Linked DNA regions of Homo sapiens: all the other regions are linked to region 3. Evidence: fine-mapped expression QTL. A gene starts in region 3. Each other region holds a variant in brackets. All regions are shown on one strand. Distances are between the middles of the regions.

Region 1 (2,757 bases), 24 kb after region 3:
CCCCGCCCCTGCTCTTCCTCCGGGGCCGCTGGCACTGCGGCCGCTCCGCAGGCAGAGAAGCCGGGAGCGGGCGAGGCGGCGGCGGCAGCAGCGATGGTGAGGGCCCAGGCGGGGCCGGCCAGCCCTGCGACGGGCAGAGGGCGAGTGGCGAGGGTGGGAGAGAGGAGTCCAAAGTCCGCGGGCTGGGGCCTCCCCTGGGGCCCACGAGGGCCAGACCTGAGGCGGTGACCACTGCTGGAGCAGGACGGGGCGGACCCTCCACTCCCTGCGCGCCGCATGGGAGAGAAATGCGTGAGCCCCGTCCTGGCTGCACCGCGCAGAGCGAGCGGGACTCGGGCTCCCCATTCTCCTGAAGCAAAGCGGTTAAGAGCACCGACTTTGGAGTCGGACTCCGGGCTGGGATCCCAGCTCTGTGACCCGGGACAAGTCACTTAACCTCCCTGAGCCTCCTTTTCCGCGTCTGTGAAGTGGGGTCAGTAATACCTGCCTTGTTGGGTCCTTGCGAGGTTAAAGGAGCCACAGTGGCAGAGACCCGCCTGGCACTCAGAACCCACTGCTAAGAAGTGGTAGGAAATGTAACGACCTCGTCAGCCCTTTCCGCAGCTGTGAGGAGCCAAGCCTGGCTCAGGAGTTGGAAACTTGAGCAGATGGGGTGGCAGAGGCCATTCCAGCCCCATGGCAGGGTGTTGGAGGGCGAACTCCTCCCCTAGAGAAAGAGAAAGGGAGATGTTTACTCTGAAAGTTCCACTGAAGTTATCAGTGTATGGCACAGGCCTGACTCCCTGCTAACCTCTACCTAGTGACACATTCCTGAGTTGAGTCATCCCCACTCCTGCTGCAGATCCTGGCCTTTGTCCTCACTTGCCATCTCCAAGGCAAAGATGTCAGGAACAGCTGGTGCCAGTTTCTCCCTTTCCCTAGGGCTCCTGGGAAAATGGACTGGGCAGGAAGTAGGCTTGGTGCTTTAAGATTTTGCCTTGGAGAAACTGACAGAGGTGTGATGGATGTGGCCTGGCTAGGGGTCAATGCCTGGATGGCCTTATCTCCAGGGAACTTGGAGGCAGGAAGAGGAAGTGGGGCAGGAAGGTAGCACTGAGCTCTGAGGCCAGGCCAGGAAGCTGAGGAAGGCTCTGAGAATAGGGCAGAGCCCAGAGCCCACTTAAGGGTGTGCAGGGCAAGGGGTCAGGCAGGGGTAGGGGTGGGCTTCAGCCGGCCCTTAGCTCTT[T/C]GGGAGAAGCTCCTGAAGTGAAGGCTGAAGGCAGGATATTTTATTGGGGGAGGAGGATACTGGGAAACCTGGGGATTCTCACGGGTACATTTGAGGCAGTCTGTGGAGGAGAGGCTGGGGAGGTCGCTCCTCCACCCATCCATCTCCTAGCCTCTTCCTGTTTCTTCTTTCACTCTTGCCCCTTTAGCGCTTTCCTTCCTTCCACCCATCCCCTTTCCCTCCCTGGTCCTTCTTCCTTTCACTTTTCTTTTCTTCTCTATGACTCATTCAACCAACAAGGATTTCTTGGAAATGTCCTTCATGCCAGCATGGTGACAAGTATAGGGGACAGAGCAGGAACAAAGCAGTGATGGGAAAGATGGAAATGGAATGAATAATTACTTGAATTCATTAATCTTGTAGATGATCCTCTCTCCAAAGAATGTGTGTGTTGAGCCACAGGCCTCCCTCATATGCACACAAATTAGGTTGGTAGCATCAACCAGATTCTTTAGCCAATCAGCTAAAGTGTCTGACCTCCTTGTACCTGCATCTAATTTAGCACACGGGTTACAAATGTGGTGCCTGGAGTCTGTGTTGGTTCAACTCCCAGATCTTCTACTCACTGGCTCTGTGATCTTGGACAGGTGATTTAACACCTCTGAGCCAAAGTTTCCTATAAAACTGGGAAAAGGCCAGGCGCAGTGGCTCACACCTGTAATCCCAGCACTTTGGGAGGCCGAGGCGGGCAGATCACGAGTTCAACAGTTCAAGACCAGCCTGGCAAACATGGTGAAATCCCGTCTCTACTAAAAATATAAAAAAATAGCCGGGTGTGGTGGCACACGCCTGTAGTCCCAACTATGCGGGAGGTTGAGGCAGGAGAATCGCTTGAACCTGGGAGGCGGAGGTTGCAGTGAGCTGAGATCGCGCCATTGCACTCCAGCCTGGGTGACAGAGTAAGGCTGTCTCAGAACAAAAACAAACAAACAAACAAACAAAATAACTGGGTTAATAATATGGCCTTCAATGGGTTGTTGGGTGAGGATTAAATGAGACAGAGCAAATGAACAGCAAGCAGCATAGTGCCTACCTCAGAGTATGTGCCCATTGGATGGTGGCTGTTATTCTTGCTCAAGATGTAAAACCTCAACAGCCTGCCGTGCCAGATGAAAATAAACTAGATGCAGCCGGGCGCGGTGGCTCACGCCTGTAATCCCAGCACTTTGAGAGAGAGGCCAAGCCAGGTGGATCACGAGGTCAGGAGTTCGAGACCACCCTGGCTAACACGGTGAAACCCTGTCTCTACTAAAAATACAAAAAATTAGCTGGGCGTGGTGGCAGGCGCCTGTAGTCCCAGCTACCCTGGAGGCTGAGGCAGGAGAATGGCGTGAACCCAGGAGGCAGAGCTTGCAGTGAGTGGAGATCACGCCACTGCACTCCAGCCTGGGCGACAGAGTGAGACACCATCTCAAAAAAAAAAAGAAAGAAAATAAACTAGATGCTAGTTACCAAGTTACCAAAAGCCCATTTAAAGTTCTGAGCCACAGGTT
Region 2 (2,757 bases), 44 kb before region 3:
CCAGCTACAAAAAAATATATTGTATAGACATATATATGTGTGTGTATGTGCATTTTTTAAAAAGCATTCGTGCTTATGCAATATTAACCCACTGGTATTTCAGAGATGGTGACAGAGGTCCCATCTGGCACCCTTAGTTTCTTTGGGAATCAGCATTCCTTTATCAACTCACCCTGCAGACTTGGTTTAGCAGCAGAAACCTATCCGGCTCTCCCAGGCACCGGCTTTGGCCCTTCCTGCACAGCCTCGGAAGTGCCTGGATCACCTCCATCAGCAGCTATCGACCTCTGTCTGAAGTCCAAGTTGTTTGCTTACCTTTCCTGGGCTGAGTCATTAAAGGAAATGTATTAGTTTACTTTTTCAACTTCTCTATTCTCTAGAATTTAGCTTCCTTATTTTACACACGAAAGGATAAAGGAGTTATACTGGATATTTTGTAGCAGATTGGGGGTGGGGGGGCGAGGGTCGGGGGAGACAGAAGGAGGGCCTAATCTGCAATAGAAAAAGAGAGAATGATTCTTGTATTAATGTTTGTTTTTCATTTATTTATTTTTCCTGCATGATCATGTTCACCATCATGTCCTGAAAGGCAACACCTACAGGCAAAGAAGATGTGGAAGGGCCTGCACCACCTGATCGCCATCATCCCTGCCCTCTGGGGCCTGGCAATCCAGTTGGGCAGCCTGCACAGAATGACCTGTATTTTCTGGGCCAGGACAGAAGTCAAGAGGAAGGGGAGATGCACAAAGGCCAAGGTAGTCAGAGAAGGTTTAGATGAGAAGAGGCCCTGAAAGGTGGTTGGGACCTGGAAACAGCAGAGTGGTGGGTTCTGGGCAGGGAGATGCCCAAAGTGCAGCTGTGGCAGGGCATGATGGCTCACGCCTGTAATCCCAGCACTTTGGGAGGCTGAGATGGGTGGATAACCTGAGGTCAGGAGTTCAAGACCAGCCTGGCCAATATGGTAAAATCTTGTCACTACTAAAAATACAAAAATTAGCGGGGCATGCTGGCGCGTCCCTGTAATCTCAGCTACTCCGAAGGCTGAGGCAGAAGAATCGCTTGAATCCAGGAGGCGGAGGTTGCAGTGAGCCGAGATCATGCGGCTGCCCTCCAGCCTGGGCAACAGAGAGACTCCGTCTCAAAGAAAAAAAAAAAAAAAAAAGAAACAAAAAGAAAATGAAGCTGTGGAGGCCAAGAC[A/C]GGCTGGATGTGTCTGAAGAACGTGGCATGTTGCGGGGCTGGGAGTGCAGAGAGGGGATGATAACCTGGGAAGGCAAAGCCTTGTCACAGAGCAGGCACTTGAAACCCATGGTCTTTCGCCAGCTGCAGGGGTCCTGAGCCCTGAAACTGTCCTTCAAATGGGGTGTGTTTGTGTAAGCTTCTGCAGAGATGGCCATAGGAGTCAAAGGAGTTTGGGGAGAGATTCATGTGCCTTGGCTAAATGATCTGAATTTTACTCTGTGGAAGCCAATGAGTTTGAGAGTGGAGAAGAAGCGAGGTATCATGAGAAAAACAGTTTTTAGATGTGGGTTTTGTTGTTGCTATTCTTTTAGTTTTTATTTTTATTTATTTATTTTTTTCTGAGATGGAGTCTTGCTCTATCAGCCGGGCTGGAGTGCAGTGGCGCGATCTCAGCTCACTCCAACCTCTGCCCCCAGGTTTAAGCAATTCTCCTGCCTCAGTCCCTGGAGCAGCTGGAACTACAGGCGCATGCCACAACGCCTGGCTAATTTTTGTATTTTTAGTAGAGACAGGGTTTCGGCATGTTGGCCAGGCTGGTCTCGAACTCCTGACCTCAGGTGATCCGCCCGCCTCAGCCTCCCAAGGTGCTAGGATTACAGGCGTGAGCCACCCCGCCCAGCCTAGTTTTTATTTTTTAAAGATTAATCCAGGAATGGTGAGTTAGAATGGGGAGGAACTCAGACAGGGAACTTTTAAGTTTCAGTCCCTTTTGGTATAGGCATGACGTGGAAAAGGCCCCAAAACAATGAAGGAATGGGCAGGAGAAACATCAGAAAAGATGAATTGGCAAGATTTTATGACTGCATGTGATCGGAGAAAAAGAGTGTGCTAGTGACCCAAAGGTGACTAAGATTTTAGCTTAGGCAAGGTGTAACTAGGTTTCTGCACAATACTAGCTTATTTCTATAAGTTACTGTTTTGGGTTTTTTTGTTTTTGTTCTTTTTTTGAGACAGAGTCTCGCTCTGTCACCCAGGCTGGAGTATGGTGGTATGATCTTGGCTCACTGCAACCTCCATATCCCAGATTCAAGCGGTTCTTGTGCCTCAGCCTCCTGAGTAGCTGGAATTACAGACATGGGCCAACTCGCCCGACTAATTTTTGTATTAGTAGAGATGGAGTTTTTTCATGTTGCCAGGCTGGTCTTGAACTCTTGGCCTCAAGTGATCCATCTGCTTCAGCCTCCTAAAGTACTGGGATTAGAGGCATAAGCCACCGCTCTCGGCCTAACTTACTGATTTTAACAAGAGGTTTTGCTTACAAATTGTACCAATCACAATTTCTGGAGGATCATTTTCTTGAAGGATCAATGTGCCTTCTCAAAAAGATGTATGAGTGGTCAATAAACTGAGCTCCTTCCTAGACAGAAAAGTTATGCCAGGATACCCTATCGAGCTGACAGTATCAAAATAGGTCAGTTTCCAGGAGAAAGTCACGAAAGGCCTTAGGGATTCACTCACTAGTTTTCACTATTACATCCTTCTTTTAAATTATTATTATAAAGACAATGTGTAGAGTA
Region 3 (2,723 bases):
TTCTCTGAGTCTTCTGGGCAACTTCATGCCACAAGCAAAATGGGTCACTGCTGCCTCGCCTCTACATATCATATAGCATTTCTAGCTGGGTACGGTGGCTCACACCTGTAATCCCAGCACTTTGGGAGGCCGAGGCAGGCGGATCACCTGAGGTCAGGAGTTTGAGACCAGCCTGGCCAACATGGTGAAACCCCGTCTCTACTAAAAACACACATACAAAAAAAATAAAAAATTAGCCGGGTGTGGTGGTGGGCGCCTGTAATCCCAGCTACTCGGGAGACTGAGGGAGGAGAATCGCTTTAACCCGGGTGGCGGAGGTTACAGTGAGCCGAGATAGCGCCATTGCACTCCAGCTTGGGCAACAAGAGCGAAAGTCCGTCTAAGGAAAAAAAAAAAAGCATTTCTGGCCACCAAGTAAATCCTAACTGTAGGAGACAAAGCAGGTTTAATCCTAAACTTCGCAAAGACCTCTTCTTTTATACCAATGTCTTCAGCTCTGAGGAAAAGGGAGCTAAGTCTACTTGCAACCAAAAAATAGAGATTGTCATTCTCCACTCTCAACCAAATTGCTCCCACCCATAAACTGGACTCACCAAAAAGAAAACGAAAGACAGCTAAGCTTGCAGGGTCCGTTGGTCGATTCAGCAGGGTCACCAGCCTCCGCCAACTGGACAAATCTGTCCACTCAAAACCCAAGAGTTTCCCTATTCGGCTGTCCTGCCTGGGCCCTGAGATCAGTTCAGCCTTGTCTTTCTGTACTTTATCTGCAATCAATAAATGGAGAAAATATGTGTGCGGGGGTGGGCTCCACCTCAAATCAAAGAAATCACTGCACCAACAGCTCAGAGCTTCCGCCCACCCGGGTCGGCTCAATGAGGTTGCCTCAATGATCTGACTATAGGAAACATCCCTGCAGTGCAGCCCCCTCTCCACGATCCCCTAATGTCCCAGAACCCCTCAGACTACAGTCCCCTAACCGCAGTGTTCCCGAATGTCATCATCATTCAGAAGCCGCAGGCTGCAAATGTCTCACAGCACGCCCCCTTCCCCACAGAGGACCCCCCCCCCGCCTCACCGGGAGACACTGGGCGTCCTCCCGCCCCCGCCCCTCTGAGACCAGCGCTCCTAGGAACTCTCCGCCGGAGGGCGGGGTCCTAAGCCTACCTGAGCTGGGCGAGGTCCGCGCGGACCCGGCAGACACCGCCATTGCTCTGCGGAGGAGGCAGGTGGGTCACAGCTGCCGCGTCTGAACGGAGGCCGCCAGGAGAATTTGCTTCCCTAGGCTCCGCCTCCCGACGCGTCAGCGGCTGTGCGGCCGGCCGCAAAGCGCCAGCACTGTCGTAAATACTACCCACGACCGGCGGCGCCGGATTCCTTGCTTGGCGGCAGGGGGCGGAACAAGGAGCCTTGGAGCGGGGCAAAGGTACCCCTTAGTGCCGTTGATCTCCAGGGGCATTGTTAGACTCGCCTGTTATGCCTTCCGAGGGGGCCTCTGCTTTTTAAACACTGAAAAGAGTCTGAGTTCCCCAACTTCCTTGGGTCCTCCCCGACCCCATTAGTCCTCTCCGTCCCTGCGTCCCTGCGGTGCTCTCTGGTGTGAGGGATCGGGCGCAAAGGGCAAACTTTTTGTCAGAGTGACGCCGAGTTGAGGACGCGCCTGGAAATGTTGCCTGGGTTTTGAGCCATTGCACGACCCCTTCACTTTCTTTTCCAGGACCTGCAAAGAACCGAGGTTTCAAAGCAGTAGGGGCCGGGCACTGCTCTCGCTTGTAATCCCAACAGTTTGGAAGGCCAATGCGGGAGGATCGATAAAGAAAAAAAAAAAAGGCAACAACAAAAAAAGAAAAAACACTAAAAAAAAAGTTAGCTGTGTGTCGTGGCGCGCTCCTGTGGTTTCAGCTACTCGGGAGGCTGAGGTGGGAGGTTCGCTTGAGCCCAGTAGTTCGAGGCTGCAGGGAGCTGTGATCGCACCACTGCACTCCAGCCTGGGGGACACAGTGAGACCCCGTCTCAAAAAAAAAAAAAAAAAAAAACAAGCCGGGTGCGGCAGCAAGCCTGTAATCCCAGCACTTTGAGAGGCCAAGGCGGGCGGATCACTTGAAGTCAGGAGTTAAAGACCAGCCTGGCCAACATGGTGAAACCCCGTCTGTACTAAAAATACAAAAATAATCCGGGCATGGTGGCGTGCGCCTGTAATCCCAGCTACTCGGGAGGCTGAGGCAGGAGAATCGCTTGAACCTAGGAGGCGGAGGTTGCAGTGAGCCAAGATCGCGCTACTGCACTCCAGCCTGGGCGACAGAGTGAGACTCCGTCTCAAAAAACAAAAAACGAAAAAGAAAGAGAAAGAAAAGAAAAGGCGGGAAGAAAAGAAAGAAAGAAAATTAAAAGCAGCCAGGGAAACAGGAACAACATAACTGAAGAGGGGATACAGAGCAAGGGCAGTGAGTAGAGTGTGGCCCATCAGGGAAGGTTCTCAGAGGTGAGTCTGGAGCAGAATTAAATACCTAAATCTCTCCACTGGGATTAGCCAGCAGGAAAAGAAGAAGGCATCCCAGAGAAGCGGTTCTCAAACAGTTGGGTCTTGGGAACCATTTACAGTGTTAGAAATTATAGAAGACCCTAAAAGCTTTGTTTATGTGGATTATATCTTTCAATATTTGCCGTATTAGAAATTTTTTTGGCCGGGCGCGGTGGCTCACGCCTGTAATCCCAGCACTTTGGGA

Direction of the effects. Alleles are on the strand shown, and positions count from the first base shown. SD is a standard deviation of normalised expression in the study named. Not every link is listed here.
In carriers of allele T in region 1, the expression in prefrontal cortex of the gene that starts at base 1,272 in region 3 tends to be lower than with C alone (moderate effect, 0.69 SD a copy in GTEx).

Evidence for each region. PIP is the estimated chance that this variant, and not a neighbour inherited with it, causes the effect.
Region 1: its variant is the best candidate, but not a certain one, in a credible set for the expression of GGCX in prefrontal cortex (GTEx, PIP 0.87).
Region 2: its variant is the best candidate, but not a certain one, in a credible set for the expression of GGCX in tibial nerve (GTEx, PIP 0.58).

Annotation. Positions count from the first base shown.
Region 1 is chr2:85,584,398-85,587,154 of GRCh38, forward strand. VAMP5 (vesicle associated membrane protein 5) reads left to right here and starts at 34. Exons shown (of 3, transcript NM_006634.3): 1 at 34-96. The coding sequence starts at 94. RefSeq lists an enhancer at 1-666 and a silencer at 1-305. The variant T/C (reference allele first, on the strand shown) is at 1,226.
Region 2 is chr2:85,516,564-85,519,320 of GRCh38, forward strand. No RefSeq gene overlaps it. Among named protein-coding and RNA genes, the nearest start is that of PARTICL, 21 kb to the right of the region's middle. The variant A/C (reference allele first, on the strand shown) is at 1,199.
Region 3 is chr2:85,560,222-85,562,944 of GRCh38, forward strand. GGCX (gamma-glutamyl carboxylase) reads right to left here and starts at 1,272. Exons shown (of 15, transcript NM_000821.7): 1 at 1,165-1,272; 2 at 594-764. The coding sequence starts at 1,207. RefSeq lists an enhancer at 1,246-1,475.